Linked DNA regions of Homo sapiens: region 2 is linked to region 1. Evidence: fine-mapped expression QTL. A gene starts in region 1. The other region holds a variant in brackets. All regions are shown on one strand. Distances are from middle to middle. Region 1 holds the start of EPHB1 (EPH receptor B1). Region 2 overlaps EPHB1 (EPH receptor B1).

The links.
Region 2: its variant is fine-mapped to the expression of EPHB1 in caudate (GTEx, PIP 0.95). The same link has a PIP of 0.9 or more in cerebral cortex.

What each region holds. Positions count from the first base shown.
Region 1 is chr3:134,793,729-134,797,728 of GRCh38, forward strand. EPHB1 (EPH receptor B1) reads left to right here and starts at 1,532. Exons shown (of 16, transcript NM_004441.5): 1 at 1,532-1,961. The coding sequence starts at 1,904. RefSeq lists enhancers at 1,048-1,257, 1,319-1,613, 1,658-1,707, 1,718-1,907.
Region 2 is chr3:134,902,853-134,906,852 of GRCh38, forward strand. All of the region lies in intron 1 of EPHB1 (EPH receptor B1), which reads left to right. Among named protein-coding and RNA genes, the nearest start is that of EPHB1, 110 kb to the left of the region's middle. The variant A/T (reference allele first, on the strand shown) is at 2,006.

The DNA of each region.
Region 1 (4,000 bases):
TGGAGGCGTAGAGGGCAGCTAACATGGCATTAAGGTGGATGATGAGAAGGTGGAGGTTGATGACATCTTCCCTTCAGGCACAGAGGTGGGGTAGGAGGGAGGGGAGGGGAGGAGGAAGGCAGCCTGAGTCAGAGCCAGGGAAGGAAAGAATTGTCAGGATTGGGGGACTTGAGTCTGGCTGTGGTGGAGAGGAAGAAGTCCCAGCAAAGGAGAGACTAGACACGCAGAGGTGGGGGGTGTGGGGAACTGATTTAGAAAAGCCCAGAAAGGAGAGTCATCCCAAAGGGAAATATCGCATCTGCCCACTGTTAGCTCATTAACAGACCAGGGGAAAGGATTGGTGCCTCCAAGGTGAGAGGCGTAGGAGGAGGGGTGGGGAACCTAACGGGTCATCCCTGACCCTGTAGGACCAGACTATCATCAGGTATGTAGGGGGGGCGGGAGAGGAGGGAAGGACACATCTCCAGCATAACATATAACAGCCTCAAGGTGAGTTTCTGATTTAGAACCCTTGACCATCTCCAGAAACAGGAAGATAAAGTGTAGCTGTGAGAGCTGAGCCTGGGAGAATTGCTCCTATCTCCAAGGCTGCATCCCCAGTTGCTGCCTAAGTCCTTCCCACCCACACTGAAGGCCTGGCCCACAGCAACAGTGCACCTCGCCTTGCACCGGCCTGGGAGAGCCCTCTTGCAGGCTTTGCTGTTTTATAGCTGACTGTGTGACTCCTGGTCTCCCCACGCTGAGCTGTCCTCTGGGGTCAGGGCCCTCTGTGGAAGTTCACAATGCACTGGGAAGTGAACACCAAAGGCAACCAGAGGCTTCTGCAGAAAAAGAACTGCGAAACGTTGGACAGGAAGCAAATCCGGTTCCCTGTGGACCCTGGAGCAAGTGCCCACAGGTTATCTGAACAGTATTCATTCTTTCGACGGACATGTACTATGCCTCCCGCAGGCCAGGCACTGTTCTGTGAACTGTGGATTCTGTAGTGAACAAAATAGACAAGAATCCGAAAATGGTGACCCCATTTTAATGAGGGAGAGACCCCACGATAAACAAAATCGATTAGTAAATACCAACCCATGCTAGAGAGTGAAGAGCTCTGGAGGAGAGGCACGGGTGCGCCCCTGGAGTTGCTCTAAACAGGGTAGGCAGGGTGCTCTTGTCACAGAGAAGATGAACGAAGGCTCGTTTGATCATTTAAAGCGGATCCAGTCCTGGGTGGGATGTAAGGGCACGAGGCCTCCCCAGCTCCTTCGCTGGGCACCCTATGGGGGGACAGGGTGAGTTGGGCGGGCCGCTGCGGTTCTCCGAGAGCACCACGAGGGGGAGCCCGGACCCCTCCTAGCGCCTTCCGAGCCCTCCCGCACAGCCTTGCAAGCAAAAGTTTTTCTTAAACTAACAATGCCAGTGTAAGGAGGTGCTCGCGCCTGATTGGCCGGGGGAATTTTGCAGGTTTGATTCCTTGATTGGACAGGAGGTGTTAGGGGTGGGGAGAGAGCTGATGGTGGGGGATCCCGCTCCCTCCCGCGTCAGTCTGGCCGGCTCCGTCCTCCCGTAGGCTCCGCTGTAGCTAGCAATGTGACACCAGGACGCACTCGCTCTCGCGCGCTCTCCCAGGCTCGTTCTCCCTCGCCCTCTCTCTCTCACACACGCACGCACACACCCACCTCTCCCATAAACACACACACACACATGCACACCCACACCCACGCGCGCCCGCACCGCCCCACGCGCACACACTCCTGCCCACGCCCACGCAGCGCTCCGGGAAGTCCGGTCCGGGCGAGAGCGCGAAAGGATACCGAGAAGCCACCCGCGGAGAGCGCAGCGGCGCCCTGGGACGCGGCGCTCTCCCGGCGCTGCTGCCTCGGCTTGGTCTCGGCCTGCGGGCCGTCGGCCGGCGATGGCCCTGGATTATCTACTACTGCTCCTCCTGGCATCCGCAGTGGCTGCGATGGAAGGTAACGTACCCTCCACGGAGCAAGTTGGCTGCTGGTGCCGGCCGCCTTGGGACTGCTGTGCTCCGCGGTTCGCGGGGTTCCTCTGGCTGCTTTGCGGTGCAGGCATCCCGGGACCCGAGGGCAAGGAGGTTTGGGAGCCTCGGCCGCTGCCGAGCGCGGGGCTTGGGCGGCACCCACCAGAGCGCCCCCGGCTGGCTCTTAGCGCCCGAAACTGGCTCGCGAGTCCCCCGGCTTCCTCGCCCCGGCACTCCCTGGTAGCCTCGGTCTCCCGCAGCCCCCGCTCGGAGAGCTCGGAGCCCGCTGCATTGCGGTGCATGCTCCTTAGCTCTGGGGCAGAGCCAGAGCTGGGCGTTGGGGAGAAAGGGGTGCCTCTGGCCATCCGGCTCCTGGAGTACTGGCGCCCGTCTGCTCCCAGGCACGGATACGCTTCTGAGCAGCCGCGCGCCACCTCCTTTTCTCCAGCTCGCAGTCCACGGGCTAGTGGACTCTGCTTGGCGTGCAAGCACTGCGCGCGGGGGCCGGAGAAGCTCTGCCGTGGTATCCCGCAAGTGGCCGCCGAAGGAGAGGGGTGGAGTTCATTGGCCGTACCCTTGGGGACCAGTCTGGTGGTCCGGGCGCCTGCGGGACTGCAGGTTTCCAGGGTCAGTCGGGGAGAGGTGGAAACCCTTTTCGCCTCTTGAGCCTTGGAACAGGAGTGGGCTGGGGTGAGTGGTCGGTCCTACCTAAAGTCTCCCAGCCTCTCCACCACCCCGGAGAGGATACTCGGCGGCCGGGAGTCGTCGGGCAGCGTCACTCTCTGCCAGCTCAGACTTGGCGGTGCCTCCGGCTTGGTGGCTGGGAAAGCGCGCTCCAAAGACACCGTGCCCGGCGCAGCGGGGAGCCTGGGCGCTCGGTAGCGCTCGCGAATCCCTGTGGGAAATCCCGGCCCAGCTCCCCGCCTCCCGCCCCTTCCCCCGCCTCTGTTCTTCGCAGCCTAGCAGCGGCCGCGGCAGCCTCCTGGGAACACAGCTCCGCGGGAGAGCGGAGTTGGAGTTGTCGGGAGAAAACCAACTCTAGGGGTGATGCGCTGCCGCAGTCCGGCTAGCAGCCCCACTTTCCGGTGTCCTGCTCCGGATGGAACTCCTCTGGGGGACTCCAAGCCGGGGAGGAGCAGCTCTTGGCGACCGCGCAGCGTTCCCATCTGGGAGCTCGCTCCGCTTGTTACTCGTTCCTCGCGAAACTGTGACCGGTTGCCCAGTGGAAACTCCCCCAAACACGATGGTTTGGTGCCCCCCGCCATTCCGGAAAGCTCTGCCCTTCTGGAAGTGAAGCTGGAGGGGCATTCCGGGCCCTGAGGCGCGGCTAAGATTCCCTTCCCTTTTGGCGAAGACCACCGCATCCCACGTTTGTTCTGGTGGCGGCGTGGGGGTGCGGCGATTAATGCCTAGAAAGCTCTCGCTTGCTTTTCCGAAGGTGGCTTTTTGTCTGCCCTCAGTCTCCTGCTTCCCTCAGGGACTGCTGGGCTTTGTAGGGAGGGGAGCAAGGAGGGGTTTGCTTTTTGGAACGTGCAGGAGAAGACTGGAGCCGTGTGGAGTGCCGTCAACACCCTGGCGCAGGGATGCCTGGGTTTGACTTATTGAGAGACACGTGTGGGAGCAGTTGAAATTGGAAATTCAAGGGGATATATACCCCCAAACCGGGCAGGAAAGCCAGGGTGAGCGCATTTGCAAGGGCAATTCCAGACTGGACTTGCAGCATTGGGGTGGCGTCATGCAGGTCCGAGGCTCGGTCCGGCCCGCGGCTCTTTGCGCCCCCAGAGGTTCAGTGGCCGGGTCTCAGAGGAGATGGGTGCCCACTTTGGGGAGCGTGCTCTCGGCATTGGGTTCCTGTGCATGCAAGCGAAGTAGTTTGGAGAGCAAACGTATGGAAACACAGCAGGCATGAGGACGTGGTCAGTTTCCTCCCTGCCCCTCTTCTTGGCTAGCCAGAGGTCCCTGTCTGCTTGCCGGAAGCTGCCCGCGGGTGCCATTGTGTCAGAGCCCAGGCCTTCCGGAGCCACT
Region 2 (4,000 bases), 110 kb after region 1:
TGAGTATCTTTTGCAGCAATTTTGAAAGCCACTTATTCCATCTCTATAACGGTTAGTTTAGTCTAAACCAGATAATGTGGCCTGGAAATGCTCTTCACCAGGCATCTGTAAATTGCCATATTCCATGCAGATAATGAACATGGAGTTAGGGCACCCTGGCCACCCTTCCGCAGGTTGCCCTTGCAGGCTTTTCAGGACACATGGTCCTGACTATGGCCCAAGTTGAGGGTACTAGGTCCCATTTGTATATTCGGTATTACTAAAACTTATGTTTCTCTCATCTTATTTGATGTATTAAAAATAAATAGAAATAAAAGTGCGGGCACTCCACTTGGAGCTCTGGGTGGCTCCGTGCCAAGCTGGGGACAACAAAGAGCTTATCTGGAGGTCGTTGGAAGGAGCAGGGCTCTGAGAGCCTGCTCAGGGCTCCAGTCTGGGCTCCTGCATTCCAGGCATCCCCTGAAGCTTTAGGGTAGCTCCTACTGGTGCTGGCAAAACAAGGGTGAGTGTATGGAATGAGAGAGGCTGACTCTTCACATCCAACCTCTCTGGCCTCTTCAGCAGTGTGCCCAGGAGAGAAGCCTCAGCTTGCCTCAAGGCCTAGGATGTGCTGACGTGCACAGTGAGCACCGGCACTTTTAGCAGCATCATTTGTCATTAAAATGAATTTGCTTGGGATCGCTGCTGCCCTTTCTGAGAATCTCCTTCTCAGAAGGTCCTTGGGGCTGGAAGTTTGGGGTCCTTTCACTGTCCACTCATGTATACTTCCCTTCCACCCAGCCTGGACTGTGTACGCCTGGACCAGGTTTTATTCTAGGGATGGGAATGATGGGGCCTTGGTAAATGGAGGGACCAAAGGTAAGAATTCTATCAAAGGTAAGAATTAGGTAATAGATTAACCAGACAGAGTTGGAAGGAAAGATTTGTGAAGTTATTAAAAATTGCTTGGTGTTCTAAAGCTGGTTATTATTCCATTGTTGCTAATTCTGGGTCCCAGTGAATCCACAGGAGAGAAGTTTCACTGTGACCCCACCGCAGCCAGATGTGCCCACGAAGGAAAAAGCCTGAAGGCATTTCAGGCCCTAATTGGTTGTTTCTGTAATGTTTTTCATTGATTGTGCAGCGGCAGTGCAAGCAGCTGCCCAGGGAGCAGAGCAGGCAAGCACCGGGGGCCTTTTCAGGAGGGTGTGTCTACCTGTCATGAGGCTGTCTGCTGCTGGCCTAGGAGATCTCCAAGCCCTTTTGGATCCCCCAGCCCTGGAAAGGAGGCTGGCTCCAGGTGGGAGAAGAGGTAGCACTCTTGCCCAATTAGGAGCCTGTAGCTCCCAGGCTTTCCTCCTCTGAGTGAACATTTCTTTCTGAGGCTGGATTCTGCCCTCTGATTATCGCAACACATCGCCTGTTTGCTTTTTCTTGGTTTAACTCCCACACTAATTTTGTGCATGAATGAGTACAGTGAAACCAGTTTAATTTGCTGTTAATTCTCTGTTCAAAATATTCTCTTCTGTTTAAGGGACATAGTCGCTTTCATCTCTGAGGCAGCGTGTGAAAGCAGGCAGCTGCTAGGGTGGTGGAGGGGTGCCTGCGAGTGGGTGTCAGCCTGGGCCAGTGTGTCTGTGGTCTGTGGTCTGTGGTGGGGGGTGGCAGGTAAGCACCATGGGGGTGGACATTTCTCAGAAGCAACAACCCACAGTTTTTGGGGCTTTACACTTGCTGAGCCAGCGGATGGTTTGACTCTGCATGGGAAAAAGTTCATAGCTGGGAGAAATACCTCCTCACCAAGGGGCTATGGCTGAGAGATTTTGGCACACACACTGAGTAGCTAGTCTCTTGGAGATCACGAGTATGGGATGGGGAAGTGAATTCTACAGCTGATCACAGATAGTCAGGGAAGACATCTGACTGTCATTTAGGAAACACAAACTTTAAACATTCCTTCAAAGTGTCTAAATATAGTGTTTATACAATTTGTTCAAGCTTAGTTGGTGAAAGAGATCTGTTTTTG[A/T]CAAAATGTTCTTGTTTGGGTCTGCTATGCCTAGCTCTTTTACTTCTCTGCTTTAACCAGGGGCCTTTTAGGGGAGCGGGCTTTGCACCAGGTGGCAGAGTGCCCAGTCACAGGACTGCACTTGGAGAGACAAATGATCTCTACAGGAGCTGAAACTGTAAAACAAAAGTAATGGGGCATGATTCCACAGCACTGGTCACCATGAGTCAGCCCCTGAGACCATGTGGGAGTGGTTGTGGCTGTGGGTGAGGGTCCTGCTTCACTCCCCAATAGCTGCATCAGTACCCACCTCCAGTGCAGTGTTTCTTTAGAATACTCTTGTAAGTTGCAGGTAGAGAAGATTGGATGGACACTGGGGATCAGCCTTCCTCCACTTTCCTCTTTGGAGCTATCCAAAGTGCTGGCTGAGGGGGCCCCAGGAGCCTCTCTCTGAAGCCGACATATTTTCTCTGTGAGTTTCCACATGCTGCTGGCCTACCAAACTGATTGTGGAGTGTGCGCACTGCAGCCACTCCCCGCCACACCTTCCACACATTTCTCTTGTCACTTTCCGCATGTCAGGCATTTCTCTTGTCATTCCCGGCATTACTGACTGCCCAGCATTGCCAACCAGGGGGCAGGGCAAGCATTCTGCTTTGGGAAGCACATGTGGTTTATCCATCAGCCCAGCACATCTGTAGGGACCACCCGCTGGGAAAAGGTGCAATGGAGTGGAAGCCTAAGGAAAAGAGGAAGAGCAAAGGCAGCAGGTGGTGAGGTGGTTTTACAAGGGCCAGTCAGTGTGGCCTGTGGAGTACACCACACTTCTGGCCTCCTCTTTTCCTGTGCTGAGGTCTGGCCAAATCTGGACTGACTCTTGGCTTATGTTTCCTCTTGGTGCTGACCAGGAGCCTTGCTGTGGACATTTCCTCCCAACTGCCCTCTAAGCTGTGAAAGCCAGACAGAGCCTTGCCGTTTCCCCATGATTCCCAGGCAGTCCTTGGACTGTTTCGATTGAGCATCTTGCTGTTGGCTTCCCTTCTGAAGCCCCCTTTGCCCATCTGCTAGCTTCACTCCTCTGCCACCTGATTTTGCAGTATTGAATTTTCTCTTGGCTGATCTCCTTTCTCATACCTCTGATTGGTGGTTTCCATAAGATCAGAGGAGACTCTTCCGAGAGCCCAGGGCCCATGGCCCTTCTGAGCGCTCCCATGGTGATGCGATCCCATTGATGTGCCAAGTCTACAGAAACCCAGCTGACAAACACACTAATTATACACGTTCCTCTGCAAATTCATTAATGGCAAATGAGGCCTGTGTTCCCCATGTTTATTCTGTTTCCCTTTATACCCCTTTGGAAGGACTCAAATTCCTTTTTGAATTTTGTTGAAACCATTTAGCCCGAGGGGATAGCATCATAGATCAGAATTAGGCCAGTCATCTTCTGTAGGTACACTCTATTTAGATGACTTAGTAATATAAATTTTATTTAATTTTATTTTTGTTCATTGAGTATCCTCTGGGTTCCAGCTGGTGATTTTCTGGTATTCTAGAGGTCACACAAACTTTTGTGGACGTTTATAGGTATGCTGATAGCTGTAAGAGTTTTTTCTTTTAATTGTACAATAAAATAATGAATGAAGTGATCAAACGTGAAAAGACAAGTTTTAAATATCACTGATCAAATTCTTCTAGCATGTTTGTCCAGGCCACAACCCTTCACTATCTAGTGGTGGGAAAATTATATATCATGGGCCAAATCCAGCCTATAGTTTGCTTACATGAGGTAATGGCAATGGCAGAATTGAGTAGTTGCAACAGAGATCTTATGGCTCCCAAAGCCTAACATATGAAGTTTGCCAGCCGCCAGAGCAGACCATCATAACACTTATCAGAGCAGCCAGTGTGGTCAGTGGTAAACCAAGGCCCTCTTGGAGAATGTGCTCCTGGGTTGGGCTGGAGGACTTTACCTAGACCTGTGCTGCTTTGCAGCCCAGAGGCTATCACCCCAGAGGT